4 separate regions of the Homo sapiens genome follow, and regions 1, 3 and 4 are each linked to region 2. Evidence: fine-mapped expression QTL. A gene starts in region 2. Each other region holds a variant in brackets. All regions are shown on one strand. Distances are between the middles of the regions. Region 1 overlaps PUS7L (pseudouridine synthase 7 like). Region 2 holds the start of PUS7L (pseudouridine synthase 7 like). Region 3 has its middle 61 kb from the start of PUS7L. Region 4 overlaps IRAK4 (interleukin 1 receptor associated kinase 4).

Evidence for each region. PIP is the estimated chance that this variant, and not a neighbour inherited with it, causes the effect.
Region 1: its variant is fine-mapped to the expression of PUS7L in skeletal muscle (FUSION, PIP 0.95).
Region 3: its variant is fine-mapped to the expression of PUS7L in esophagus mucosa (GTEx, PIP 0.97).
Region 4: its variant is fine-mapped to the expression of PUS7L in whole blood (TOPMed, PIP 0.99).

What each region holds. Positions count from the first base shown.
Region 1 is chr12:43,731,808-43,740,391 of GRCh38, reverse strand. It overlaps PUS7L (pseudouridine synthase 7 like), which reads left to right. Exons shown (of 9, transcript NM_031292.5): 6 at 2,001-2,082; 7 at 3,731-4,011. Among named protein-coding and RNA genes, the nearest start is that of PUS7L, 23 kb to the left of the region's middle. The variant T/C (reference allele first, on the strand shown) is at 4,559.
Region 2 is chr12:43,754,357-43,762,940 of GRCh38, reverse strand. It overlaps PUS7L (pseudouridine synthase 7 like), which reads left to right and starts at 4,151. Exons shown (of 9, transcript NM_031292.5): 1 at 4,151-4,211; 2 at 7,680-8,584. The coding sequence starts at 7,696. IRAK4 (interleukin 1 receptor associated kinase 4) reads right to left here and starts at 3,990. Exons shown (of 12, transcript NM_016123.4): 1 at 3,925-3,990. RefSeq lists enhancers at 3,284-3,343, 3,964-4,073, 4,414-4,463.
Region 3 is chr12:43,693,083-43,701,666 of GRCh38, reverse strand. No RefSeq gene overlaps it. Among named protein-coding and RNA genes, the nearest start is that of PUS7L, 61 kb to the left of the region's middle. The variant T/C (reference allele first, on the strand shown) is at 4,424.
Region 4 is chr12:43,778,140-43,783,888 of GRCh38, reverse strand. It overlaps IRAK4 (interleukin 1 receptor associated kinase 4), which reads right to left. Exons shown (of 12, transcript NM_016123.4): 8 at 5,587-5,696; 9 at 1,399-1,582; 10 at 165-227. Among named protein-coding and RNA genes, the nearest start is that of IRAK4, 22 kb to the right of the region's middle. The variant A/G (reference allele first, on the strand shown) is at 2,354.

The sequences.
Region 1 (8,584 bases), 23 kb after region 2:
TGACTCTTTTACTCAATGCTCTGTCCCTAATACCCTATGCAGTACCTAGCATGTGGCAGATACCTAATAATATTTGTTTGAATAAATGAATGCTGTAAAAGAAAATTGAGTGGGAAATTGGGTCAAATGACCTATTTAAGATCCTTTCCTACTCTAAGACACGTGCTTTAGAAATAAATCCCAGTGCTAAAGACAGTGATAAAATACATAAACTAGTAGATATTATTTTTTAAAAAAGGAACATCTTTTAATCATTTAGGATTTAAAATATTAAATTTGGCAACTTTTTCATTAAGATTTTGGCAATTATTTTTAAGTCCAAAGAATTTAGGAAATTGAGGGCACAAATGAAATTAAGGGCTTGCCATTCCCCTCTGCTTGCTACTTTCCTATTTTTGTCATGTGTGTTGGTCCAGTCTGAAATGTATGCCATTATTTTACCCTTGTGTTCTTGGCTCAATAATAGAGATAAAGGATGACAGAACTCTAGGTTGTCTGTCAATTGCCAATGACAATAGAATTTATACTGTGTACTTACTTTGATAGTACTCTCAATATAACCTCTTCTCCAATTTTATGTCTCTCTTTATCTTTTGTCTTATGAATCCTTTTTAGTTTTAAGGGAGAACCATCTTTTATATTTCCAGCATCCTTTTGTTCTTCAAGGACTTCTAAGTCTTGAGAAATAAAAAAGCCAGTTATTTGTGCTGAGGCAGGAGGATCATAACGTCAGGAGTTCGAGACCAGCCTGGCCAATATGGTAAAGACTGTCTCTACTAAAAATACAAAAATCAGCCGGGCGTGGTGGTGGGCGCCTGTAGTCCCAGCTACTCAGGAGGCTGAGGCAAGAGAATAGGTTGAACCCGGGAGGCAGAGGTTGCAGTGAGCCAAGATCGCGCCACTGCACTCCAGCTTGGGTGACAGAGCGAGACTCCGTCTCAAAAAAACAAACAAAAAAGATATTTGTGGCTGTGAAATGGGTGAAACATAACTTTAATTCATTTAATCCTAACCTGAAAGTTATAGCTGTGTTTTCTTTGGAAACTTCTGAGGCTTCTTTTTTTAATGTTGTCTTTCTGAGTGATTTTCTTTACTTTTGCTCTGGGAGCGAGGCATTCTACATCTTCAGAGCTACTTCTTTTCTTCTTCCCTTTTTTGACTCAGGTAAGTTGGATACTTAAAATCTTTCTTGCTTTTTTGTTTTTCTTTGAGGGTTGCTTTTGGAGTTCACTAGTTTCTACTTCTGAGCCCTCAGAGTGGTTCTTGATCTTTCACTTTACAGCTGCTTGCATTTCTTGTGTCCATATTTAACTCTTTGATCTGGACATTGTCTTCCTTTTTCATTTGCCCTATTTTTTTTTCTTTTTTCTTCTGTAACAATACAAACATTGGTTTAATTTTACTTCTACTCCAGCCATTTAAATATTAAATATTTTCAAACACATCTATTTAAATATTAAAGAACTATTTAATATTTATTTTTAGGCCAGAAGGGGCTCAGTTTTCACTGTCTTAGGAAATATGCTAGGTTTTCTTGGTGCTTCTTCTGGTGGGTTGTTAAGAACCTGAAATGACTGCAAAAAAGTTTTACTATTTATAATACTTGCTAATTTTTTTGCTTTTGGAAACAGTTTAAAAATAAGGGTTTAATACATTTAGCCTAAGCTTTTCAGAATTCTTACACCTTACTAAGAATGTCAATACATTTTAACTTTAATATTTAAAAAAAATGACAAAAGTAGAATTATGGAAGTGATAGGGAAATACTTTTTTCAGTCCATAATATTTTAAACCTATATATAAAATTATTTCATGCAGAAGGCTTATTTCTACATTTAACATTGTCTGTTTAATTTTTGCAAGCCTAAAGAGAAAATTGCAGCATCAAGTATAATTATTAAATCCCTATTCTTTTAGGATGCTAGAGAATTTGCATCTTTTTTTAAAGAAAGTAATTTGACATTTTCATTAACACATGTTTACCTGCTTGATTTTTTAAGATGAAAGCCATAAAATTGTTTCTTACACCAGAAGACTTGGATGATCCTGTAAATAGAGCAAAGAAGTATTTTCTTCAAACTGGTATTTACGTTTCTTTATCCTGTACATAACCATGCAGATACAGATACACACTATAAATGTTTTATCAGCAGGAGAGCATTTATTGTAACATAAATGTGATAAGAAATAAATTATAGTATATTACATACTGAACACTTTTATTACATGACTTAGGCACTCACTTCGTTTTTGGTCAGATTTGGAAGTTTTTTTGTCTATGCTAAGTCTTGTCTAGGGGTAGGGGCAATGGGAGAAATAGTTTCTTAGTTTTTCTTGGCTGAAATCCTCTGAGAGAGAGTTCCAAATTCGAATCTGGCACTGATGACAATAATTAATTGCAGCTGGGGGAGATACAAACACAAATAAATAAAAGTTCATTTATGATATTCCAAACTTTACACATTATTCTCATTCTAGCTGCCAATTAGCCCTGTCAATTTTTAAAACGTTAGGTCAGTATGATGGAATACATATAGAATGCTTGATGAAAACCACTAAGGAAAAGTGGTTATGAGTATGGCTTGAGTCAGACTGCATGGGGTTAACTCTCAACTTTAATACTTCCCAACTGTATGATTTTGTGCAAGTGATTTGACATCATTGTGTTAGTTTCCTTATCTGTAAATTGAAGCAAATCACAGTACCTAAAAGAGTATTATGAGATTTAGATATGCCCTTGGAATAATGCCTTGCGTGTACTACACAGAGATAAATATTACCTTTATTTAAATAATATTATTTATAATATTATAAATATTACCTTTATTTAAATAATAAAAACAGCAAGCACACCATTTCAGATTCATTCAGATATCTGACCGACATACTGAATTTCACTTATATTGAAATAAAGGATGTCAGTTTTCAAATATTTATTTATTATTTTTAATTATGTACATATTACATATGTGCAGCTATTCGCAGGAAAGTAGTATTTTTGTGCCATACCACAATGTGTAAACAGTGTGGACACTTCTAACTCTTATGAGTAATTTAAGTAATAATAAGGAAAATTCAAAGTGACTTGTTTATGTCTGTTATAGAGTCCCGAGATGATAATTTCCTTATGGCAATGATTCTTAAACATTCATATGCATAAGAAACACCTGGTACATCTATTTCAATGCCAATTCCAAGGCCATACGTGAATAAGCATCTTTGTGGTAGATTCCAGTCATCTACATTTCAAAGTGCATTTGTGAGGCATAATAGTGTGCCTGAAGGCTCCAGATCTCAACCCTTTCTTAGTAAAAAAATTCTGTGTTTATGTCCAGAATAGCTCTTTAAAAAACTCAAGCCTCTGCTAGCTCAGCAATTAAATTATTTAATCCTTTAGGTTTTTTGTTTGTTTGTTTGATTTTGTTTTAACAGTCCTGTGAATAACTTCATTAGATTATCTCTATTCTGAAGTAAGGGACTTTAGTAAGCTGTTACTAATGTTGGATTCTTGGCTTTTTTTTTTTTTAATAGCAGGGAAAGTGAAAGTAGGGCCATATTATGCTTATTATTTTTTTTAAAGCTCTTCAAGTGTAGCTAGGTTTAACTGAAAGTGTTGAATATCATCTTAATACCCATGTTCATTGCCTCAGTTTGAGATTAGAACAAAAGCCTTTATAACTGGCCTTTAAATAAAAGTGGCTAACTATACCTGATTTACCCTTTGTTTCAGAGGATGCTAAAGGCACACTTTCATTGATGCCTGAATTCAAAGTGCGTGAGAGAGCATTGTTGGAGGCATTGCACCGCTTTGGCATGACCGAGGAAGGTTGTATCCAGGCATGGTTCTCTTTACCCCATTCCATGCGCATATTCTATGTTCACGCATATACCAGCAAAATTTGGAATGAGGCAGTATCTTACAGACTTGAAACCTATGGAGCAAGAGTAGTGCAGGGTGATTTGGTCTGTTTGGATGAAGACATTGATGACGAGAATTTCCCAAATAGTAAAGTAAGTATCATTCCATCAGAGTTTTCCAAGAGTAGTTACTATACCAGAACATGAATTTTTCAAAAGCCCTGATTATAGAAACACTTTAAACATACATGTAATTTATTTATCTATTTGTACTTATATTTACTCATCTCCTGCTTCAAGTCTGCTGTCAGTTTAGGCTTAACACATGTTGGTAAATGGAAAGATAAAAATAGTGGTATGGAGTGAAAGATATATAGGTAGTAAAGCTTCCTTTAAAAAACCCATTTTAAAAAAGATTACACAAATAATGCACAAAACAGCCCATAAAAATAAAAATCAAGGCCAGGCGTGGTGGCTCACACCTGTAATCCCAGCACTTTGGGAAGCTGAGGTGGGCGGATCACGAGGTCAGGAGTTTGAGACCAGCCTGACCAACATGGTGAAGCCCCATCTCTACTAAAATACAAAAATTAGCCAGGTGTGGTAGCGCACGCCTGTAATCCCAGCTACTCAGGAGGCTGAGGCAGGAGAATCTCTTGAACCTGGGAGGCGGAGGTCACAGTGAGCCGAGATCGTGCCA[T/C]GGCGCTCCAGGCAGGGTAACAGAACGAGACTGTGCCTAAAAACAAAAATAAAAACATTACAGATGAGGCTGCCATCCCTGCTAGCATCCTAATGTGATTCCCTGTGCTTCCTCCAGAGACTCAACCTCTGTTGTTTGTTATGTGTCTTTCTAGACCTTTCTGTATGTTTTCACATAAATATCCATTGAAAATCTATTTTTATTCTATTAGTTAACACCGAGAAAAGAAAAGGTAGGACTTAGAGACTCAAAACTTAAAATATGGAGAGGAGAAGGAATATGATTTTTATAATGGTATATGGAACAATGTAATGTGTGTATTTCTTTTATAGAAATGTGATTTTATCTAAATATGATTCATAATTTCCTCTTAACAATGTCTTAGAGACATTTATATTAGTGAAGTTATAATATAGTTTATATTATAAAGCTTGGTCCTTCCATTTCCTCCTTGTCCAGTTTTATTTTTTATTTTTATTTATTTATTTATTTTTATTTTTTATTTTTTTATTTTTTTGAGACAGAGTCTCGCTCTGTCGCCCAGGCTGGAGTGCAGTGGCGCGATCTCGGCTCACTGCAAGCTCTGCCTCCCGGGTTCACGCCATTCTCCTGCCTCAGCCTCCCAAGTAGCTGGGACTACAGATGCCTGCCACCACGCCTGGCTAATTTTTTTTTTATTTTTAGTAGAGACTGGGTTTCACCATGTTAGCCAGGATGGTCTCGATCTCCTGACCTCGTGATCCACCCGCCTCGGCCTCCCAAAGTGCTGAGATTACAGGCGTGAGCCTCCGCACCCGGCCATCCAGTTGTTTTTATCTCTGTGAGTTTGAACTAATGAAACTGGGTTCCATAAATCATGCAAGGAAATTCATTTGATAGTGCTGTAATGCAAAAAGAACAAATTATTATTCTCCAACTTTATCATAAGTCAGTCTCATAAATTTTAAAAATTAGTGAAAATTTGAGTAACACTTTCGTATGTAACAGTAAAATCATTGAATTTTAGAGAACAAAAGGATTTTAGAGACACTCTTTTTTAATTCCCATTTTATAGAAATGAAAATTGGGTCCCAGATTGGAGAGTAGACAGATTCAGAGTCACACAAGTAGTGGAATTAAAAAGACCCGGCTGCCTAACTCCTAGCCCTGTTGGGTCTCTACTAGAAAAATCATGGAGTATAGAGAAGTAGTCTGTAGTGAGAACTAGAACATGGTCCGGTTTTTCAAAAATAGAGGTAAAACAGACTCTGAACTCTACATAAAGCAAACTTTATCTAAATTAATGTCAGAATTCTTGATGTATTAATTAAGGTTTTTTGGTTTTAAGTAATAGAAACCCACCTCAAACCCACAGTAATTTAAAGAAACATGGGAATTTATTGGTCCTCATAACTGAAAGCCCATGATTGATTCAGGCGCAGCTGTATTTGGGACTTAAGTGTCCTAAACGATCTCCTTTTTTTCATCATTCAGCTCTGCTTTTCTCTGTTAGATCCATTCCCAGTCTAGCTTACACCTTTGGTGGCAAGATTATTATTAACGACTCTAGGCTTATTTCTCACCACTCTAGACTTGCTTCTCTGCAGAAAAATGATTTTTCTTTCCCAACAGTGTCAACAAAAGCTGTGTAATTGAGTCTCAGTGGCTAGGAATGGCCTGGCCTGGATCATATGTACAGAACCAAACCAGAAAGTGTGAACTGCAGTATGTGATTGACTAAACCTGCATTCCTGGGGCTCCTTCCTGGGACCCTAATCCACATCTGACACCTGGGAGAGGTCCCCTGGAAAATGAGAGTGCCGCTACTTGAAAAGAGGGAGTAAAGATTGCATAAGCCAGAACATCAGATGTCGGCTTCACTTTTTCATTAAATGGATGAATATGCAAAAACTGCAATTACTTGTGCTCCAACCTAATAGGAAAGAAATGATAAGAAAATGATCACTAGGAGGCAGCATATGTTACTAAGAATGGTAATTTAATTGAGATACAGACTCAAACTGTGTGAAAAGAAATCTAGTAGCATTTAAGTTTTATTTTACCTCATGTGGGGGAGAAGAGATATGTCAATGATCCCCTTTTGATAAATAATAAAAAATCGTTATCATTTCTTAACACCTCCCAGAAAACATGTCCAATTAAATATTGGAAAGCACACTAATTAGTAAGTCATCCATTTCTAATTCAGATTTTTGGAAGTTAAAGATTACTTTCACAAGATACAACAATTTTTGAAATGCATGAGTTTTATAAGACTTCTTCATTCAGAATAACATTTACAAGGATAGTTTTGTGATTGGAATTTTAGCTGCTTTCTTTTTGGAGCTATAGGAGAAGAGAAAACATTTTCTCCTACATATTTTGCAGAATTTCCTTTTATGAGCAGCAAAAACAATGTTTATATATATTTTAAGATCGATCACTTATTTTATTAGTTAGCACTGAGGAAAGAAAAGGCAGGACTTAGAGGCCCAAAATATAAAATATGAAAAGGAAAAAGAATAAAATTCTTAATAAATGGTATATGGGGCATGTAATATGCATCTACAATTAAAAATTATAGAAAACTAATCTGATTCCTTCTTTTGATAGAGTTACTAGACTAACAGGTGTATCTACATTTTCAAATCACTTGGTAACTTTTCTTTGTGTGTGTGTGTGTGGGCAAGATGGAGAAATGTGAGTTAGACAATTAAAAACTTAGGTGAATTTATAGTTGGGGAGCAGCCATACAAGGAAAGCATGTTTGTTCATGAATTGCTGGATATCAACCTGGAGGGAATTCTTTAAAGACAAAGCATGGTGTTTTATACCTGACCATGTTTATTCGATGTTTTCATAAATTACTTAAATCACAGTATGTAGGTATACTTATGACTCTGTGAAAGAAAAAAGGCTAGAAATGGTGATGCAAGAGAGATCATAATTCCATGTAGTCTGTCTCTTGTATTTTGATCAGATCACATCTGGAGCTTTGTTTCTGTTTCTGAGTGCAGTAACTGAAAGAGGTTAGTTACCAATAAACAAAAAAACAAACCCTAAATTAAAAACAAAAAGGAGCAACATTATTGATAAGACTAGGGAGAGTTGAGGGGAAATCAGGTAGATTTAGAGGGGCTCTAGACACTGTACCGTGTGATGAATGCTTTAGGAATATGAGAATGCGCTGAAGCCTTGTGAAGAGAGAATAGCTGCCTTTCTGTTTGAGCTTTCATGTATAAGAGAAAGCAGAACTGCTTATTCTGTGATATCCTAGAGCCACATTTCATAGAGTTAATCTGTCATGCACCTTTTTTTCCTCTTGTATGTGACACCTGTTACCATTCTATGAAACAAATGCTGAGAAATACCACCTCTTTAAATTTTTTTTTTTTCAATTTTATTTTAAAGACAGAGTCTTGCTCTGTCACCCAGGCTGGAGTGCAGTGGCACCATCATGTTTCACTGCAGTCTTTAGCTCCTGGGATCAAGCGATCCTCTTGCCTGGGTCTCCTATGTAGCTAGCACTACAGGCATGTGCCACCACACCTGGCTAATAAAAAAAAATTTTTTTTTATATAGACAGGATTTCCCTATGTTGTCCATGCTGGTCTCAAACTGCTGGCCTCAAGCGATCCTCCCAAAGCACTGAATTACAGATGTGAGCTACCACATCCAGTCAGAGAAAAATCAGTTCTGTATAGATTATTATATTTTCGGGGGACAGAGATTAGTGGGGGTGGGTAGTGGGTTGATATTATAGAAGCAGATTTTCAATTCAGCCTAATAAAGAAAAACTTTGTGATTTAGAAAAAGATTGCTGGTGATTGAGGTGAAAGTATTGCCTCAGAGTTTTCAGCAGCCCACCTTTCTCCATGTTATCCAAATTCAGTGATTAGTGGTTAAAGCAGGAAGAATCATTCTAATTTTTATGTAGTCTACTCCTCCAGAAACAAATTATGATAAGATCTTGTTTGGGTTTATGTATATTCAGCATAGGAACTGATTTATATATAATAGAGTTAGGGAAAATTGAAAGTGGTGGAA
Region 2 (8,584 bases):
AACCTCTTTTGAATCTAGAAAGAAGGAAGCAGAGGTTTAAATACAGATATATTTGAAGGGAGAAGAGTTCCCACATACTGTTATTTTTTCTGTGAAACAGGAAATGAAGTCATCTAGGGCCAGGTAAAAGAATAGCCCACATACCTTAAAGGCCACCTGGTAAATGCCTATTATTCCTTCAAGCCCAATTCAAAAGGCACTGTTAGCTTCCCCTGATTGTCATCTCTTTTGCTCCAAAATGTCACCTAGTCATTCTTCTGTTATAATAATTATTATGTTTTACTGTTTATGTGTTTGCTTTCTCTGTTAGATGGGTGCTCTCCTGAGCTAGGACCCAACCAAATTCACCTCAGCAACGACTCACAACATTTGTGTTGAATGAAAGGCTGATGACTTTTTAACTTTAATTAAGAAATTGTATCTAGGTTGCCTATAGACTCTGCAGTTGCTCTCTTCAAGTTATTTTTCCTTACTAAGATTTCTCTCTACTGTAAGGTACAACATGATTGACAAAGCTAGACAAGATAGAACTGCTTAGTAGTCTTATAAATTAGAGCAAAATACAAGGAATTGAGGAAAAAACCCAGACTATCTAAAGGCCAGGGATAAATTTGGTAGCTCTCCTGCACCCAGGCTTCCAGCAGAGGTGATAAGTGTAGGGATACTAGGAAAAAGAAGGCCTTCTGCAACTCCTCCACACATGTGCCCAGAAGTTCAAAATCCCAGAAATTAAAATTTTACTTTAAATGTATATTCATATACCACTCCCAACCACATACTTACAAGAACATAAGCCAAAATATTAACGTGGTTATCCCTTGGTGATGACTTTTATGATAGTTTTGTTTTCATTTTGCTTTTCTGAATTTTCAATAATGAAAACAGACTGGGCAAAAAAAAACTTAAAAAGTGTCATCTCTTTCAAATTCTTCAAGATTTACTTTAGTACACTTAGGATTAACACAGGTGGAACAGGATATGTTGCTTACAAATAAGTAAATACCTTCATGACTGTTTCCTCATACCACTAACTCTCATAGTAAAGAAAACCCATTCATATTTTCAAGTAAGACAATTCAGACAAGTGTAAAAGGTGGGGTGGTGATTGAGAAATATATTAAAATAAGCACCTGCTTATGGAATCCAATGCCTTCCCAAAGTACTGTGCCCAAAACAGGAGGGCAAAAGATTCTTGTCAAATGTGTTAATAAAGTTTTAAGACTGCTTCATTAGCACTTTGATCAGAGGAAAAGATTGTGCAGGGGTGGAGGGAAGATGAACTTTGAGGTTGCACAGGCCTAAGTTCTAACCAAAGCCAACTGTGACCAGAGCTAGTAAATACATTTCTCTGCACCTTGCTTTTCTTTATCTGAAAAACAGAGATAGTAATACCTAAGAATTGCTGTAAGAATTAAAATCAACACATGCAAAGGGCCAAATCTTGTCACATAATAATAGGTGGTCAAAAAAAAAAAGGAGCAATTATTATTTCCTGGCAGAAATTATTCTTATATCACATTATTTTTAAAGATATGTGCAGACTGTATTTAGGTTCAATTTCCAGAACAGTAGTGAGGATCTACTGAAAGCGTACAAATAACAAGTCTGAGAAAATAGCTAAGCTTTTGAGATGGTGGCTGTCTTATTTGATCAACCATGGTAATTTTAATGTATTTATATCCTTTCTAAAATACACTATTTACTTCCATATATTCTTAGCAAAATATGCTGTATAACCATTAATCTTTATTTTTAGATACTTTAACATCATCATTATGAACAAAAGCTGGTGAGGGCTTCCAGAGCTATTAAATTAGATAGGGCTGCCTATTACAAACTGGGATATGTGCTGGTGTACCATAAATTAAACTTAACATATCTTTCTTGAACATTGATCCAACACAACAGTAAGTAATTGAAAATGCTTTGCATATATTTAAAAAACAAAATATAATACCATTGACTCACCAAATATTTACTGAGTGTCTACTTTGTGCTAGATACTGCTCCAGGCCCCTGGAGATGAAGCATTAGGAAAATTAGAGAAAAAAAACAAAACAAAACCAAAACCTGAATTCATGGAGTTTATATTCTAATGGAGGAAGGAAGGCAATAAGCAAATAAATAAACTCTATAGTATGTTAGATGGTGCCAAGTGAAATGAAAGAACAAAACGAAATAGAGAAAAGGTTGTAATTATAAATATGGTAGTCACAGGAAGCCTCAATAAGAAGGTGCCATTTGATTAAAGGTCAAAAAGAAGGAGAAAGCCAGCCACTGGACTATCTGTGGGAAAAGTTTGTGGACAAAACGAAATGTAAATGCAAAGGTTGGAACTGGGCCCACTGGGCAACAGCAAGGACATGGTGAGACTGCAGAGGAGGGAACAGGCAAGTAGCAGATGAGGTCAGAAAGGTAAAGGGGCCAGGTCTTCAAGGGCCTTAGAGTTTTTGTATTGACTTTGTTTATCCTCTGGGTGAGATGTAGATGCTGGAAGTTTTGAGAAAAGAGACATGCTCTGTACTCATGTCTTAGAAGGATACTGGGGCTGCTGGGAATAAAGGATGTTGGAGTAAGGACAGAGAAGCAAGAAAGAAGCATTTAGGAGAGCCTACCAATAAGCCAGGTGGGACGTGCTGCAGGCTGGGACCAGGGTCGTAGCAGAGCAAGTGCAGAAGTCCTAGGATTCTGAGGTGGAGCCAATAGAAAGCTATGGGCTGATGTGGAGAGTGAGAAGACAGCATAACCAAGTTTACCGATATTTACTGAGATAGAGAAGGCTGAGGAAGGAGCAAGTTTGGCCTGGAATATCAGAAGCTCAGTTTGGAGAGGTAGAAAGCAAACTTCAAATGAACGCTCTGCAGGAAAACAGAAGAAATTTGAACTTCCCGATAGCCCTCTTCAAGGACCACTCCAAGAAAGGGAAAAGGCAGATTTTAGTATCCTCTGCTTACCAGGGGCCTTGGGCAGTTACGTTTTTGAAGCACTAATAGCGCCGTTTGTTCCCATTCTAAATGCTCAAAGTGCTTTCTCGCTTTCTCAGGGTTTGCTTTTTTTTTTTTTTTTTTCTTTTGAGACGGAGTCTCCCTCTGTTGCCCAGGCTGGAGTGTAGTGGCACGATCTCGGCTCACTGCAACCTCTGCCTCCTGGGTTCAAGCGATTCTCCTGCCTCAGCCCCCGGAGTAGCTGGCATTACGGGCGCCCGCCACTATGCCAGCTAAATTTTGTATCTTAGTAGAGACAGGGGTTTCACCATGTTGGCCAGGCTGGTCTCGAACTCCTGACCTCAAGCGATCCGCCCGCCTGGGCCTCCCAAAGTGCTGGGATTACAAGCATGAGCCACCGCACCTGGACAGGGTTTGCTTTTATCCCTTTGTCTCCCTCTGGCTTCCAAGCTGACAGGTACACTTTTTTCCCCCATCTGCGAATGTACTCATCTGATCCCATAAGCCGCCTCCACTTTCTAATTCCCTGGAAGCTTGGAGGCCGGAGAAACAAGCGAATTACAATCGTGTGGAGGCTCAGCGAGCTGCTGGCGCCACAGGCATCTGTCAGGTGCTGGCCTGACTTCCTGGTTCTGGGGAAAAGAGACTTCATTTCGCAGTCGGGTTCACGGAATCCAGGGCCTGAGAGGTGAGAAACTTGAGGTCCGACTGCGCCCCAGAACAGCTGGGTGACGTCCCTCCAAGCCTCAGGCTCTTCCTCAGGGCCGACGAACTTCTTGATTACCGGGGACCTACCCAAGTCTTTCTTCTGGAGTAAGCTCTGTCAAAGGAACCCACTTCCTCTCTAACTTTTCTCACGGATGATAAAGAGATTTCCGTTCCGCAGCCGACCCCAGCAACCCTGGGGCAGAGGTGCCGAGGCCTGGAAGCGGACCTCGGACGACGTTTGACCGAGGCATTAAGGCGGGGAATGCCTTACCTGCCCGGGCGCGGGCTGCTGAAGCCGGCGACAGAAGAACCAGCCGAACTAGGAAGCGCCGCGAAGGGGCGGGGCCTGCCGGGTTGGCCCCGCCCCACTTCCCCGATGGGCTTCATCTTGGCGCCTCCAGGCGGCTCCACAAAGTGAGAAACTCCACGTATTGCGTAGGGCGCGTCTTTACGTGGGCGCCTGCCCCTTTAATTACGCCCCTGTCGGAGGCTGAAACACTTAAGGCTTCCGGGCATGCGCACAGCGTTGTGCAAATGAATGCCTTCCACTGAACCGAGGTAGACGGGGTCGAGTTTCTTGCGCGATGGTGGGCTTGTATGTGTGTGTGTGTGTGTGTGTGTGGGGGGGGGGGGTGACGAGGTTGGCATTGAGGATCCATACCCTTTGCGCCCAAAGAAAGGTGACGTGGACTAGTGTCGTGCCTTTGGACAGGCAGAGTAAGAGGAGGGAGAAGAAACAGGTAGAGCTGCTGGCCTTGTCGGGGACACCTTTGGACGTGCTGGAGGGCAACGACGCCCTAGTTTTCTGTGAAGTTAAGTAGCTTCTGCAGGACTGGGTTCAGTATTTCTAGTACCTTCTCAGGATCCCTCCTCCGCCAACGAATTCCTCAACCACGGGCCAAGCAAACTACTCCCCCGCCCACTGTCAGCAGCAGTCTCTGTTGAATGGGAATACTGCACCTTCAGGCTTAACGCCACGTGGGCTCCTTTGCTGTCCTCCAGGTCAGTTCCACTCTTCTACCAGGATGCTGGAATTACATTCTCCCCAAGTTTCCCTACCTGTTTCACTTGCTTAGAATGTCTGTCTTCCTCCTTTTTTCTGGGAGAAAGAAAAGATCATTATTCTTTCAGGGCCAATCCCTACAGCTATGTTCTTGACCATGCTGTTTTGTTTTTGAACTCCTCTAACTGTTACTCCATCGGATACATCTTGCTCATTTCCATCAGAATCATCTTACAATTCCAAAAGCATGTTTTGGAATTGTGTCACTTTTCTACTCAAACACTAACAGTAGCCATCCATTGACCACCCAATAGATTCTAAGTCCTTGTCAGGGCATTCAACATCTTCCATAATCTGGTACTAACTCAGCTACATTTTCCAGCACTGTAGTCTCCCTGCATTCCCATCCCCACTGCTCTGTATCTGGACTGCTTGTTTTTCTTGCACACATTGCATGTTTTGTTTGTACATTACTTGTGAGGTCTCTGCCTCATTTCTATCTCTTGAACTATGGAGGACTTAGATGGCCACTTCTTGCATTATGCCTCTTCTAATTATCTTCCACTTCATTCCTACAGCTCTTATTTTGTACTAGTTATTTCATTTATTTAACAATAGTATTTATTGCAGACCTACCATGTGCTTGACACTGTTCAAAATGTGTGATCATCAGTAGTAAATAAGGCAGACAAGGTTACTCCTCACGTGGAACTAACATTCTCTTTGGAGGAGATATACAATAAATAATAAAGAAAAACTTTACCTAGAACTGCTATGCAGAAAATTAAATAGGGTTTTGTGAAAGAGAATCACTTGCTGGGCACGGTGGCTCACGCCTGTAACCCCAGCACTTTGGGAGGCCGAGGCGGGTGGATCACGAGGTCAGGAGTTCAAGACCACCCTGGCCAATATGGTGAAACCCCATCTCTACTAAAAAAATACAAGAATTAGCCGGGCGTGGTGGCGCGCCCCTGTGGTCCCAGCTACTCGGGAGGCTGAAGTAGGAGAATCGCTCGAACTCGGGAGGCGGAGGTTGCAGTGAGCCGAGATCATGCCACTGCACTCCAGCCTGGACGACAGAGTGAGACTTCGTCTCAAAAAAAAAGAGAATCACTTGCAGGTTCCTGTAGATTATTGGTCAGGAAAAACTTCTCTGAGGAAATGAATCCTAAAAGATGCAGCTATATGATTGGGGAGGGAACAATTTAAACAACAGGAACAGTTAGCACAAAACTATTGAAGAAGGCCAGAGTAGCTGGAGTATAGTGGGTAATGGGGTAAAGGTACAAATGAGTTTGGAGAATAAGCAGGGTCCCTAATCTTAGATGTCCTTGGAAGCCAGGGTGAGTAATTTGGATTTTATTGCAAATGTGACTAGAGGGTTTTAAACTGGATTGTGATATGATTTAATTTACCTTTTAAGACCATTCTGGCTGGTTTGTGGGCTAGTTATAGAAGCAGGAGTTAGGGACCTTCACAATATCTAAAAGTTTTTGGAATGGAAGTATTAAAGTTGGTGTGATAAAGGACATTGGGAGTCATAAGAATCAGATGCTTAAGGTTAATGCAGTTTTTGGAGATGAGAAAGTCAAAGTTATGACCGTGACAGTGGATGACCAAGATGAAGTAGAGGTGTGAGGTTGAGGTTGAGATTGAGGACTTGAGGGTCCAAGACATTGAATGGATGATCCATATAGATGATCATAAAAATCATGTTGGATAAGAAGGTAGTGAGCCAGAGATCAGTGAATGAAGCAGAGTTGTCTGGGGATCCGAGAGAGGATGACAGCAGATGGTAAAGCCCAATGGCAGGCTCTTCAAAAGAATTGGGGTTTTTGGAGGTAGTAGAGGAAGAAATGGCTTGCAACGAACAGTGACAAACATAGACCAATATTTACAGCCTCCAGGTCCTAAGGTAGATGGGTGGGAAAGAAAAAATAGCCTTTACTTGAGAGGACTGAAGAAGAAGCAGCCTGAAGAAATAGCCAGATTTCAATTAGGGCAAGAAAGTGAGGGAACTGTACAGGAAATTAAGTAATTAAGGAAAGTAAGTATATCTTATATATTCCTTAGGAAATTAGGATATGGAGAATTTGTAGTGATTTCTATATGGCATGATGGAAAGGATTGAGAAGGTGTGATTTGCTAAATTGGTTCAGATTAGTAGAATACATTATAGGTATGAGATGATGGTCCAGATGATGATAAGTTACTTGGAGAATGTGGGGGAAACACAGAACTCACTAGTATGGGGCCCCTGGGCAATTTATCTTTCCTGCAGCTCCATATGGTATGGTAGCCATGGGTTTGTGTGAAAAGTGAGAGATCAGAGTACTATTCTCTTGCATAGTGTTTCCAGGAAGCTCTGTAAGGGTTTCTTCTGTCTGATGCCAATGATATAGTTAGAACTTTCCTCTGGCTCAACCTTGAAAGCTTCTATTTGTCCTAATGGGGGCATTAGAGAAGGCCCAGGACTGACTTAATCCTACCTTGAAATATAATCAAATCACAAATTTGTATTTAGAACTTCATTTACCCATCAGTTTTCCTATTGTCTTTTTGTCACCTCTCCTGTCACTAACCACTAATAATATAAGAAAACTTAGCCACATGTTCTCTGGAATTAGCTGGAAATTTTAGGCTCCAGGAATGGAATTTGGACAAATCTTTGTTTTATAGTCCTGTGTTCTCACCTCTTCTTGTGAGCCTACAAATGATATTTTTAAGATAAAATTGACTCATTTTAATCCTGGATAATAGGTACAAATCTGGAGTGAGTGAAGATACAAGTTAACAAATCTTTAGCTATACCAGAAATAGTTTGCCTATTAATTCAGCTTGGTATAGGAGAGTCAAAGTACACAGGAAGTACATATAGTTATAAATTAAGTTAATGATACCATTTAAGAAGACTCAGAATTAAAAGAGAGACAGAATTAACTAAATCCTGCAAACCTATTCCTATTTGGTCATCCATAACTTCTCTTTCTGTTAACTAACCACCTCTTTGTTTTGTTTTCTAGGCACTGTTATAGAAGAATGGAAGAAGATACAGATTATAGAATCAGGTTTAGTTCTTTGTGTTTCTTTAATGATCACGTTGGATTTCATGGCACTATAAAAAGCTCACCAAGTGACTTTATTGTTATTGAAATTGATGAACAGGGACAGTTAGTTAATAAGACCATCGATGAGCCTATTTTCAAGATTAGTGAAATACAACTTGAGCCAAATAATTTTCCCAAAAAACCAAAACTAGATCTTCAAAATCTGTCCTTAGAAGATGGAAGAAACCAAGAAGTTCATACTTTGATTAAGTACACTGATGGTGACCAAAATCATCAGTCTGGTTCAGAAAAGGAAGATACTATCGTTGATGGAACTTCCAAATGTGAAGAAAAAGCTGATGTTTTAAGCTCCTTTTTGGATGAAAAAACTCATGAGTTACTGAATAATTTTGCCTGTGATGTAAGAGAGAAGTGGCTTTCTAAAACAGAGCTAATTGGACTACCTCCTGAATTCTCAATAGGCAGAATCCTTGACAAAAACCAGAGGGCTAGTTTACACAGTGCCATTAGGCAGAAATTTCCATTTTTAGTAACTGTAGGAAAAAACAGTGAAATTGTTGTAAAACCAAATCTTGAATATAAAGAACTTTGTCATTTGGTATCTGAAGAGGAAGCATTTGACTTTTTTAAATATTTGGATGCAAAGAAAGAAAATTCCAAATTTACCTTTAAACCTGATACAAACAAAGACCACAGAAAAGCTGTCCACCATTTTGTCAACAAAAAGTTTGGAAACCTTGTGGAAACCAAATCTTTTTCTAAAATGAATTGCAGTGCTGGTAATCCGAATGTGGTGGTAACAGTAAGATTTCGGGAAAAAGCACACAAACGTGGGAAAAGGCCTCTTTCTGAATGCCAAG
Region 3 (8,584 bases), 61 kb after region 2:
ACCAGACCAATGAACTAGGCACAAGATTAGAAACCATGGCCCAGAAGCCATGCAGCTGGAGGCTACAAGATTTTTGACCCTCCCTAAACTGCTCTCAAGATCAGTGCTTAAGATATTTTGTAAACCCTGCCCTTGATGGATCAGCTGGCACCACCCAGATTGACAAACTGGCTTATCTGATTTAGCACAAGAAGAGGCTACTTCCTGTTGAAAAATGGCTGAGACTAAAACAAAGTATTGCCACATGGTTACAGATTATGTTCCCAAGGACATGAAATAAGATGGAGGCCTGTGGTCAAGTTCGTTACTGATCATCTTGCTGAGTTGGCTTGAAGAGCAGGCCCATGGGATCCTGGGCCTGGTTTCTAATCTTATCCCTTTTACCAGTTTGCACAGGTAAAGAGAAGCCAAAAGCCCTAATGGTAAGAAATTTTTACCCTTTTGCCAGCATGTCAGGCTTCTGGGTTCCCTTCCCCCAGCTCAACTCTAAGCCAAGCATTTTTAAGGTTTGGAAACTTAACTTCTCCCAGGTTGGAAGAGCATTATAAAAGAGATAAAAACCATTTTAACCCATGAAAGAAGGAAAAACACCACAAAAAGGAGTTCCAATTAGGGTTTTTAAGAGTTATTGCCTCTTTTCCTATTGGGAATGGTGTTTCTCCTATTTCTTTGCCTTCCCTATTTTCTCTTTTCCCTTTTGGCCTACTACAGGAGGCATATTGCTCATGACCAAAATTTTCTCCTGCTGTCAGAGCTGCCTGTTTTAACCGTAGTTAGGGTTTGGCTTAGGAGCAGCATAACATTCCTGCGTGAGAGGTCAAATACCTGAGTTAAATTTTGGAAAGCTTCTATACACCTATCAGGGTCATCAGAAAAATGACCCAAGTCTCCCTCTACTTGCCTAATGTCCTGCAATGAGAAGAGAACATGAAGGGGCCCCAAATAAGGGGGACCCTCAGATGATTTCCCTGAAAGTTCCCTTTTTTAATTTTGAGCAACTATTTTCCCTGGGCCTGCCCGATATGGCCACAAAAGAAAATAAGCCACTTTTTCTTCAAAGTTTCAAGATTGAAGGAGTCCCAGTGCTTCAAAATACACTCCAGGGGAGTACATGTTGAAGACGATCTGCTACCCATCTAGAAAAAGAAGTGAGAAGAAAAGCGTCCTTTTAGTCTCTTTCCTTTCAGTATGTGATCCAGGATGGAGGAGAAAGTAGTAGGAGGCATCCGTTCCCCCAACTATTTTCTCTCCTTCTTTCCTGGATTCCCAGCACCCGTTTAAATGTGCCGCCCATGACTGCAGGTGTGACCCTCCAAGCCATGGCACCAGAGGAACTGAGTTTGGACCTTAGTCGTGCTGTCCCCAAGCAATCAGTTCTCTGCCTTTTATTTCCCTTTGACCTTCTAGAGTTGTGTTGCCTTGTGCCTTTCAAAACAATGAATTTCAAGAAAAGCCACGTAATTGGGCAAGACCCCTTTAAGGGAGAGGGCGCGCTAGACTGAATTCTATATCCTGCTATTATAGGCCATGCTAAAGCATTTACCCATTAAAAAATGGTTCCGGTTAACTTCCGGACTTAAAATCCCTTACTAATTAAGTACTCTCTTAATAGGAGACAAAATTGATTCCTTAAAGGAACTTAGGAACCAAATAGCCGTTTCCCTGCCAGTGGGACAATATTAAGACTAAAATTTGGCTATGGAAGACATTTTACTCCTAACTGCTAAAGGCAGAAACCTCCTGTTCCCAGAAGAGCCTAGATTCTTATTTACTTCCATGAGGTGATGTTGTTGGCTTAGAAATGCTATGTGCTTGCCAGAGAAATGGTAGCAAGTAAACTTACTGTAGGGGAAAACGGGAAAACTCTATTCCCAGACTGTAAAAATCCTTGCACATTTCACACAGAGAAACAGTAAGAGGCTGCGGATAGAGAAGGAAGAAGAGTTATGGGACAGGACAGTTGAGGTTCTCTGCCAAAACCCAGGATGGGCTGTCAGAGGCTGTGTCTGGTCCAGAGGCCTTTGAATCACACCAGGGTGTGCCCTGGCCAGAAATTCTCAGTTGCCTCTGAACTTTTCCCAGCCTCGTGCAATGGCAAGGTTCCCCATGAAAAGAAACTAGTTCAAACATGGCCAACATTCCCAATACCCATGGGTAATGGGGGTTCTCCACGTTCTCCCCAGCAAGCCTCACATCCATGACTTAAGTACAGCAGCCAACGCTAAGCATATGTACTAGGCTGACCAATGCCCACTGATTTATTGGATTTATTTAAATATAGAGGCAAAGAGCACTTCGGAATGATAGAACAGATTTTAAGCTTGCTCCCATACTCACCACTCCGATGAAGGCTGTACCTCAGATTCCGAACCAATGCACCAAAAGATATGGCTCTGATGAGTGGAGGAATGCCAGGATCTTCATCTCGAGTTGAATTAGAAAAAACGACACAGGCACAGGAGGAGCAGTTTTAAGGAGCAGGGAGTATAATAGGCAAGAAAGAAGGGGGAAGAAAAAAAGAAGAAGCTCCCCTGTAGAGAGACAGAGGGAGGGGGGCTCCAAAGCTGAGAGACAGAACCCCCTCAGTAGCATTTCTATATGCCAATAGTGAACAATCAGAGAAGAAAATATAAAGTAATGCCATTTACAGTAGCCACAAATAAAATTAAATACCTTGGAGTTAACCAAAGAAGTGAAAGATCTGTTACAAAACTATAAAAGACTGATGAAAGAAATTGAAGAGGGCACCAAAAAATGGAAAAAATATTCCATGTTCATGGATCGGAAGAATCAATATTGTTAAAATGTTCCTACTACCCAAAGCACTCCACAGATTCAATGTAATCCTTATCAAAATACCAATGACATTCTTTACAGAAACAGAAAAAAATTCCAAAAATTTATATGGAACCACAACAGACCAAGAATAGCCAAAGCTATCCTAAGCAAAAAGAACAAAACTGGAGGAATCATATTACCTGACTTGAAATTTTACTACAGAGCTATAGTAACCAAAACAGCACGGTACTGGCATAAAAATAGATACATAATCCAATGAAACAGAATAGAGAACCCAGAAACATATCCACATATCTACAGTGAACTCATTTTTGACAAAAGTACCAAGAATATACACTGGGGAAAAGACAGTCTCTTTAATAAATGGTGCTGGAATAACTGGATATTTACATGCAGAAGAATGAAACTAAACCCCTATCTTTCACCATATACAAAAATCAAATCAAATGGATTAGACTGAAATCTCAGACCTCAAACTATGAAACTACTATAAGAAAACATTGGATAAACTCTCCAGGACATTGGTCTGGGCAAAAATTCCAGCATAGGCAACTAAAGCAAAAATGGATAAATGGGATCACACCAAGTTAAAAAGCTTCTGCACAGCAAAGGAAACAATCAACAAAGTGAAGAGACAACCCACAGAATGAGGGAAAATATTTGTGAACTACCCATATGACAAGGGATTAATAAACAGAATATATAAGGAGTTCAAACAACTTACAGGCAAAAATCTAATAATCTGATTAAAAAATGAGCAAAATATCTGAATAGACATTTCTTAAAAGAAGACATACAAATGTCAAACAGGCATATAAAAAGGTGCTCAATGTCACTGATCATCAGAAAAATGCAAATCAAACTACAGTGAGATATCATCTCACCCCAGTTAAAATGGCTTTTATTCAAAAGGCAAGCAATAACAAATGCTGATGAGGATATGGAGAAAAGGGAACCCTCATACACTGTTGGTGGAAATGTAAATTAGTACAAACACCGTGGAGAACAGTTTGGAGGTTCCTCAAAAAACTAAAAATAGAGTTATCATATGATCCATCTATCCCACTGCTGGGTATGTATCCAAAAGAAAGGGGAATCCGTATATCAAAGAGATATGTGCACTCCCATGTTTGTTGCAGCAGTGTTCACACTAGCCAAGATTTGGAGGCAACCTAAGTGTCCATCAACAGATAAATGGATAAAGAAAATGTGGTACATGTACACAATGGAGTACTATTTAGCCATTGAAAAAAAAGACATCCTATCATTTGCAACAACATGGATAGAACTGCAGGTAATTATGCTAAGTGAAATAAGCCAGGCACAGAAAGACAAACATAACATGTTCTTATGCATTGTAGGATCTAAAAATCAAAGCAATTGAAGTCATGGAGACAGAGTATAAGGATGTTTATCAGAGGCTGGGAAGGGTAGTTGGGGTTGAGAGGGAAGCCGGGATGGTTAGTGGGTACAAAAAATATCTAGAAAGGATGAATAAGACCTAGTGTTTGCTAGCACAACAGGGTGACTCTAGTCAACAATAATTTAATTGCACACTTAAAATGATTAAAAGAGTATAGTTGTATTATTTATAACACAAAGGATAAATGCTTGAGGAGATGGA[T/C]ACCCCATTTTGCATGATGTAATTGCTACACACTGCATGCCTGTATCAAAACATCTCATGTACCCCATATGTATATATGCCTAGTATGTACTGACAAAAATTAAAAGTTAAAAACAAGAAAAGGGAAGTGAAGAGTTAGAACCAGCCATGGGAAAGTCTTCAGAGGGAACATCAAGTTCAAGGCAATTAGCAGGATGTGAGCTTGGCACATTCAAGGAAGAAAAAGGCTAATGTTAGTGGGGCAAGGGGTTACACAGTATGAGATAAGATTCAGAAAGCCAAATCACATTGGGTTTTATAACCCATGGATTATTTTCTGCATGCAACAAGAAGTGACTGAAAAGTTCACACAACTTAATTAGCATGGGTACTCACGGATGAGGATTGTGTGGCATTACATATAAAACAAACTAATTGTGCCTATACTGATTTCAAAGACAATATGGACTCAATAGAGAAATTGTAAGTTATTATCTTCATTATCTGGGGAATTTCTTTAGGCCAATGAATCACCTTGAAGACACTGAATGCTGTCCTTCAGAAGTGTGTGCAAAAGGAGGGTGGGAGCGGGTAATGCCCAGGAGACACTGAGGGTATTGCTCCTTAGGAAAATATTTGAGAAGCCCCCTTATCAGAGGGAAAAGGATGTAATCAGAACATTTGGATCTGGGGGATTTCAAAGAAAAACACTCCCAGATCTTTAGGGAGGGAAGAAAGAGTGATTCTGTGTCTTTAAGTACTTAATGTGGTAGAGAATGGAAACAGTCCTATGAGACCCTGGGAACCAAGTATCGGGCAATTTCAGCGGAGTTTAACCCCTGATGAATCAGCTCATCCTTCCTCATGACCTGCACAGCCTAAGCAGGGGTGTGTGTTACCGCTAGATATTCACTATCTGCCAGGCTATAGGACCAGCTGTCAACAGCAACACCATGTAGCAGAAAGAAGCAACTGTGGAACCAGCTGCCTTTCTGCTTGAGTGCAAAAGGCAGAATGAACCTCTCTTCTACTGGGTAAAGCCAGGGATTTTGGAAAATTCAGGGGAAAGGTGGAGCTCAAAGAAAAATGTTGAACTTACTACTAAAATGGCAGGCACGTGCTTAAGCAATCAATTGGGAAAATAAAAAAGAAGTGACCCCAAGTTTGGGTTGTACCCCAAGTTTGTAGAGCAATTTTTAAGTGTGACATATACCACTCATCTCAGGAATATTGCCTTGTCTGGCAGGATGAAAACAACATTTTTGGTACAAAAAGTTACATAAATCATTTGAGATTCAGTAGCTCTTTCAGGGTTGCAAAATGAAGCTGGCACAAGAGTCTGTGCTCTTATCCAATAGTATTTTTTTTTTTTTGGTCTATCCATTAATTAAAAAAAATACTGTTGTAATTTTTAAAAATACTATTGTCTTTATTTGGCATACAGTTTTTATTAAATTTTGGTTTCTGGTTAGTATATTTTATATTCAGTCATTTTCACCATTGCTCAAATAGTAACTAAGGAGTTAGCCAGGTCTGCTGCCTTTGAGAACCTTCCATAAAGACTCTCTATTGTGGCTGTTTATTATTATTATTTGCTACTCAAATCTTGTTTTTTTTTTTCCTAATGGTACCTTGCTTTTGCTCTTTTTATGTTAACTCTGCTTCATTATCTGTATTCTTGACGTGATGAAAATTCAGGTTCATATCTGAGCAGTGGTGGTCATGTGGAATTAGAAAGACCTTTGGGGGTTATCTGGTTTCACTTTTCCCATCCCTTTTCTTCAGCTCTCTCTTAGGTCCTATGATGCTCATATCATGTTTTCTTTTACTTAAGTTAGCCAGGTTTGGTTTCTGTTGCTTGTTACTTAAGTATCCGAACTAATACATAAGTCATGACAGGGTCTTCTCTAACTTCCCATTCCCATAAATAAGTCCTCTAGGGAAGTAAGTCCTGCCAGGAAAATACATAGCTAAGCTGATCATGAATGTTAATCATGGTTTTAATAGTGATATGTATTATTCCTGCCCTATATTGTATGCATTTTCATAAGAAATGTTTTAGTGGAAAAAATATGTTGGTCATAATATAGTAAGGTCTAAATCAAAAGATGCCCAGAGACCATCTTGAACAATATTTCTCACTCTTGTAGTACACAGAGATAATATTCACAGCTCACATTTTGGACAGGAGCCAAAAGAGCAAAGAAGAAGGGTGCAGAGAGATAAAGTGAGCAGGAATTTATTCCAGACGTTTGCTGCCTAAAAGCACCTTAAAGTTTTGGTAAACTTAATTTTAACATAGAGACAGATTCCTATTTTTTTTAATGGTATTTTATATTTGTATTTCCAGTTTGACTTTTTTTTTTTTTTTTTGAGGCAGAGTCACACTCTGTCCCCCAGGCTGCAGTGCAGTGGTGCAATCTCGGCTCGCTGCAACCTCTGCCTTCCAGGTTCAGTTGATTCTCCTGCCTTAGCCTCCTGAGTACTGGGATTACAGGCGCCCGCCACTATGTCCGGCTGACTTTTGTGTTTTTGGTAAAGATGGGGTTTCACCATGTGGGCCAGGCTGGTCTCGAACTCCTGACCTCAGGTGATCTGCCCACCTCGGCCTCCCTAAGTGCTGGGATTATGGGGGTGGGTCACCGCACCTGGCCCAGTTTGACTTTTGACTTTTCAAAATTCCCACAAAATAAATACAGATTATACAATGCAGTTTTTATACTTTGTAAGACTATTTTGTAGTAAGGCTTAACAGTTTTTTTAATAGTATAAAAAAGTCTTAAGATTAAAACTTTCTTTTTATAATTTCTTTCAAGGCCAAGAAACACAAGTCTTTTTGAAACTGAATATAATTTTGTTAAACTTTAAATCTGAAATAAGCATTAAAAGCAGGAAGTAATATTCTAAAATAAGATTATTTACTAATAGTGTTATTTTTGTCTAAATATAAAATACTTTATTAAAAATTATGGTTTATTTATTGTGGTTTACATTTTCTTTTATTGATTTTTTGGTTTCTGGTTGGTGTATCCCAGAATCATTTGTTTCAAAATATCCTTCAAATAGTAAATAAAGACAATTTTAGGACCTAAGGTCTAATGTTGGAATTGAATAATTATTTACTATATTCAATAGAAATAAATACTAATAATTATTATATAGCTTAATGAAAGCAGTATTTATAATTTTATTAAAGTTTATTTTTGAGCTTTTTCTTTAACATAAATGGGACTAAGTAATCTTAATATCTATGCTTTTTTTTGCCTCATTGTTTTCCTGTTCTTCTATTTTTATTCATCATTCTTATTAGCCAATTCCAACCATTCTATTTTTTTTTTTTTTTGAGACGGATTCTCGCTCCGTCGCCCAGGCTGTAGTGCAGTGGCGCGATCTCGGCTCACTGCAAGCTCCGCCTCCCGGGTTCACGCCATTCTCCTGCCTCAGCCTCCCGAGTAGCTGGGGCTACAGGCGCCCGCCACAACTACCGGCTTATTTTTTGTATTTTTAGTAGAGACAGGGTTTCACCGTGTTAGCCAGGATGGTCTCGGTCTCCTGACCTTGTGATCCACGCATCTCGGCCTCCCAAAGTGCTGGGATTACAGGCGTGAGCCACCGCGCCCGGCCAATTCCAATCATTATTATAAATGTTTTTTCTCTTCTAAGAGGTCTTCTAACACTATCCCAGGATAAAGTTCCCTGTCTCTAACAGTCATCTAATATGGGATCACAGTCTCCTTTGTGATAAGTTTTTTGTCTTATTATTCAGTATTCCATGTATTTTACCTCAAAGTAGATTGTAAATTCCCTGAAATCAGGGACTGAGGCAGTATACACAAATCGTTTAGAATCATAGCCTCTATAGCTGTATGCCTTGGGTGAATGTCAGCTCTGTCACTATTTTCTTATGGGCATAGGACTCAATTTCTCTAAGTAGTTTCCCCTTTTGCTTAAAAATACTCTAAAAGAAATACCTGCTTTTAGTTTTCTTTTTGTTTTTTTTTTGAGACGGAGTCTCGCTCTGTCGCCCAGGCTGGAGTCCATCTCTGCTCACTGCAAGCTCCGCCTCCCGGGTTCACGCCATTCTCCTGTCTCAGCCTCCCGAGCAGCTGGGACTGCAGGCACCCGCCACCACGCCCAGCTAATTTTTTTGTATTTTTAGTAGAGATGGGTTTTCACCGTGTT
Region 4 (5,749 bases), 22 kb before region 2:
CTGAGAATGAAAATATTTAATGCTTTTTCCATATGCTGTCGTGTAATAGCCAATGGAAAGATTGCCAATAGAAAATGTTATTTTTAGATGTCAAATTTATCCATATAAATTTAGACTACAAAAGCAGAGAAAAAAGGATTGAGGAAAATGAATATTTCATTTACCAATAACTGAGGTTCACGGTGTTCATCCACAGCTGGAAGTCCAGTTATTATTTCTAGTAAAACCTATGAAGACAAAAAAAATCATTAATATAATACACAAGATAGGCTGGGCACAGTGGCTAACGCCTGTAATCCCAGCACTTTGGGAGACAGATGTGGGAGGATAACTTGAGCCCCGGACTTCACGACCAGCCTGGGCAACAGTGAGACCCTGTCTCTACAAAAAATTTTAAAAAAACATTGGCTGGGTGTGGTGGCACACACCTGTAGTCCCAGCTACTTGGGAGGCTGAAGTGAGAGGATCACTAGAACCTGGGAGGTTGAGGCTACAGCGAGCCATAATTCCACCACTGCACTTCAGTCTGGGTGACTGAGTGAGACCTTGTCTCTCTAAAAAATATATATATTATACATGATATTAATAAATTATATATATAATACTCAAGACAAAAACTAGAATGAATATGAATCTTGCTTACAAAATTTGATTAATCATTCTATACAAAGCTATGTCTTTTAGATATTAAAGTGGAAAGAACATGAGCTTTGGGCATTTCTCACCATCCCTCCTTCAGGGACATCTTGGACCCCAACATGACCATAAGCAGCTCTTTTCTATTGGCAACTTACTAAAGAGTCAGCCCCACTCAACATATGTTCTAAGGACTCCCAATCCTTTTCCTGCCTCTTGGGGATTCTTCACAAGAATAATTTACTCTGGCTCTTAGGAGAATATTATTTTCTAAACATTAGGCATATTCTATAGCCCTATGCCTTATTTTCAGTGCTATGAAGTTAAATTTCCATATATGAAACACGTATGAAAAAATAAAATGAAGAAAAAGCCCCCGGCTTCTTCAACCACCCACACCTATCTCTTGCTCTATCTTAAAAGTTATTGGGAATAGAGAGGTAGATTAGTAAATGTCAAAAAATGTGAGACTAAAGTATATACTGTATGACATGATTCATTTAATGCATTAGGTGTCATGCTAATTCATAAAGACAGATGGCAAGAAAATCATTTCTTGTAGTCATTTCAAAAATCAACTCAAAAGTTTTACACATTGGAAGAAGTTTTTATAAACTTTCTGGTATAAGTAGAGGTTAATGTGAAAAACTTATATTGTTACATAAGAGAGATAAACAAGATGGGTGTATTAAATAATATTCTCTTCATTTTCACAATTATAGCAGAATGATTATTTTTAATAATTATGTATACGGAACTTACCACACCAAAGCTGTAAATATCAGATTTGGGTGTTATTTCTCCACGCAAAGCTTCTGGTGCCATATAAGCTGTTGTTCCCACAATTCTGCTAGTCATGACTGTCTGGGCAAACTTCTCAGAAGCCCGTGCAAGGCCAAAGTCAGATATTTTAGCAGTAAAAGCTTCATCCAGTAAGATATTTGCACTGAAAAAAATGTAAAGTTTGAAGAAAAAAATGTTTTTCCCACCCCAAAAAAGTCAAACAGTTCCTTAGCTAGATGTACGTATGTATGCATGTATATATGTATATGCATACATGCATATGTACATACATATTTACAGAGTGTAACGTTTTATAGTATGCATCATAAAAGCCTAAAGTTTATAGAAATAAACCTAGAATTCAGATTATAGCTAAAGAGAAGCAACTGTCCTCTTTTTTTATGTTTCTTGAGGAAAACATTTAGGAGAATAAAAATGAAATAAAACTGTCTACATTAGTAAGAGATATTTTCATTATTCCACAAATCATTTATTATAGGGTAAATTACTACAAAGTCTTCCAAGGCACCTTTATTAATTCCTTTCTTAGTATGTATCAATTCATTTCAAAACAAATTTCCAACCAAAGTATCTCAATTATGAATTTCTTTATTCTTTTGTTCTGTACTATCTGGCTTTTGAAGAGAAAAAAATATGGCCAAAATATCTCAATTAATTCATTATGTGCTTTCATACTTTAATTCAACACAATCTTATTGAGAACTCCCTATGTTGTGTAGTATTTAAGCTCACTGCTGGGCATGGCGGAGTCTTAAAATCTTGTCTGTGACAAAGGCATAAATAATTTTTTAAAACAATGGTAATATTAGGTACAAAATGCTGAGAGAACAACCATGTGCCTGGAAAAAGTAGGAAAAATTTCAAACAGAGGGTGAAAAGTGTGCTTAGTATTGAAGGATTATTAGAAGTTAAT[A/G]GTTATATGAGGGAAAGAAAGGCACTCCAGGCAAATGGAGTAACAGGTACAAAGTGACAAAAACATGATATGGTATACATGGTCAACTTCAAGGAACGAGTGTCCAAGAAACATGGAGATAATTTGCATTTTATCCTGTGAGCAACAGGATACCAGCTAAAGTTTTCACAGTAGGAAACTGATGTTATTAGACTTAACTTTTAGGACCATGACCTAGTAGTGTGGTAGTGAATAGATGAGAACTGATAGGCTGGATTTAGGTTGACTACGAAGGTTTGTAACAAAGCAAATGGGAGATAATGAGGGTTTAAATGGTCATAACATGGGATAAATGGAAAGTGAAAATTTTGAGGCTCACACAACAGAATTTTGTAATTAGCATGATATAGAGAATGAGAACGTGTTCAGTTTGAGAGACAGAATGAACAGTGACTTCACTGGATCAGAAAGGAAATGTGGGAAGACTTTAGGTTGGGAAGAGCTGATGAGTTTGATTTCTAATGTTCTGACTTAAAGGCTACTGTGGGATACCCAGATGAAGTGTTTTTGGTACGGGGATACTAAAAATCCAGGATTGGAAGCTAATAATACAGATTCAAAAGACACTCACATATAAGTAGCAGTTAAAATTAACATAATATCACTCAGCAAAAACATACAGAGAGAGGCCAGGCGGGTGGCTAATGCCTGTAATCCCAGCACTTTGGGAGGCCAAGGCGGGCGGATCACCTGAGGTCGGGAGTTCAAGACCAACCTGATCAACATGGAGAAACCCCATCTCTACTAAAAATACAAAATTAGCAGAGCGTGGTGGTGGATGCCTGTAATCCAAGCTACTCAGGAGGCTGAGGCTCGAGAATCTCTTGAACCCGGGAGGCGACGGTTGCAGTGAGCCAAGACCGCGCCATCGCACTCCAGCCTGGGCAACAAGAGTGAAACTTGTCTCAAAAAAAAAAAAAAAAAGAACATACAGGGAGAAAAGAGACAATGATATAAGAACACAAGAAAGTACCAATCCATGAAGGATAGGAGATGGCGTTTCTTTTCTCATCTAGGGTCAGTTCCTCTGCTTGAGCTGCTTTCTACATTCTCAGTAACCCTACTGAACACATCATCTCATTTCTCTCTTCCATACTATCCTCTCCCTTTTAATCTGGATCCTTCCTATAGGCACATAAGCACAGCTTAATCTCTGCCAGCTTAAAAAAAGTTTCCTGAATGACTTATCTATTTCTAGCTGTCCCCTTCACTAGTAAAATGTCTTAAAAGACTTGTCTATACTCCTATCTCAGTTCTCTAGCTCTCACTCTCTCAACTACAATGTGATTTCTAAACCAACTACTACCTGGAAATGGGTTTCCATAAAGTCACCAAAGACCATGGTGATGCTAATCCAATGATTAAAGCCCTTGACTCTTTTTGACTACTCCCTCTTGGGAAACACTTTCTTTCCTCGTTTTCAGGGACTCCACACTCTCCAGGTTTTCATCTTACCCTTCTCTGTATGTGTACTTCCTTAGATTCCTTTTTGTGATCATCTCTTCTATTTGGCCATTAAGTCTTAGGGTTCCCCAAGACTTAATCTTGTGACCTTTTCTTAATCTACATCTCCCCTCAAGTGAATACAGTCACTTCAATTATCACCTGTATGCAAGTAATACACATTTATATCTTCAGCTCAGACCTCCAGCTCCAAATCTGTATATCACACTGTCTACCATCTCTACTACTACATCTTAAAAGCACCCCAAACACAACATGTACAAAAGAGAATTCACATTTTCTAACCATCTCTCTAACCCCAACCTAACCAAGTCTTTTTTCAGTCCTTTCTACATAAGTGAATCATGCCATAATCATTCCAGAATGCAAGTCTGGATGCCATTATTCCAGGAGTCATTCCTGATACTTCGCTCTTCCTGAACCCCTGCATAGCCAAGGTATCAACAAGTTTTGCCATTTTAATCTTTCTAATCTGCTCCCCTCTCTTCTTATGAACTGCCACCTATGATAGCCTACTAACTGCCTCTTCTTACAAACTGTTCTCTACACTAGAGTTAAAATCATCTTTGCAAAACTTAAATATGATGCCATATTCCTACTTAAAATTTTCAACGGCATCTCATTACACTTGTGATAAAACTAAAAGCCTTACCTTGATCTATTAAGTCCTATAGGACTTAGCTTCCTACACTTCTCTGTAGTTTTATCTCCAATCCACCACCCTATAACTTTCTGCATCTCAGTCATACTGCATTTACTTCATTTTTTTTTAGACAGAGTCTTACTTTATTACCCAGGCTGGGGAGCACTGGCACGATCATAGCTCACTTCAACCTTGAACTCCTGGGCTCAAGCCTCCTCCCTCCTCAGCTGCCCTAGTGTCTGGAACTGTAGGCATGCAATACCACGTTTGACTAGTTTTTTTGTAGAGATGAGGTCTTGCTATGTTGTTCAGGGAACATAGTCAGGTCTGCTACTCCTGGCCTCAAATGATCCTCCTATCTTGGCTCCCAAAGCATATTTCATTTCTTGTAACTCATCATGCTCCCATATTCTGTCTCACCACTGGTCTTACAAATGCAGTTCCTTCTGCCTAGAATGTTCTTCTCCCCATCATCCATTCTACAGTTACCCTCAAATTGTGTCTACTTATTTCCTGCCCATTCTTTGAATCTCTGCTTAAATGTCACTTTCTTGGAAACCCTTCTTTATATTAATCCTATGTACTATACTATATAATAATAATACATATAATATATATGTGAACTGTACATATTAACATTCTATAATTATTTTGTGCTTATTTGATTGATGTTGAGCTCTATATATGAATATGTTACTTATAGTAGGTAAATATTTAACTAGATAAATACACAAGAAAGAAAGAGAACTGAAAAGTACTCATGGAGGATGAAGGTGATTCAGAAAAGAATAGTGATCCATAAACTAAGAAAACAACTAATTTCCATAAGGCAAAAGTGTCAAGAAGAACAGAATAAACTACTATTAAAACAAACAAAAAAGGTCAAGTAGGATGAGTACTGGAAGTAGGTCACTGGGCTTGGAATAAAGGAGATTATAGATGTCCTTATTGAGAAGAGCTTTCATGGAGTGATGGGAAAAAAGTCCAGATGCTCTAGGTTAAGACCTGCATATGAATCGTGAATAGAGTGACAGCAAATTATTCTTTAAAGACAGCTTTCCAAAAACTTTTAAACAGTAGCATTTACCTTTTAATATCTCTATGAATATGATGATTTTCATGTAGAAAATTGATGCCATTAGCTGCACCCTGAGCAATCTTGCATCTCATGTGCCAAGAAAGTGGTGGAGTACCATCCTTATAAAGAAATAAACCAAATTAAAAATGAGAAAGAATAATAAAAAATCTAC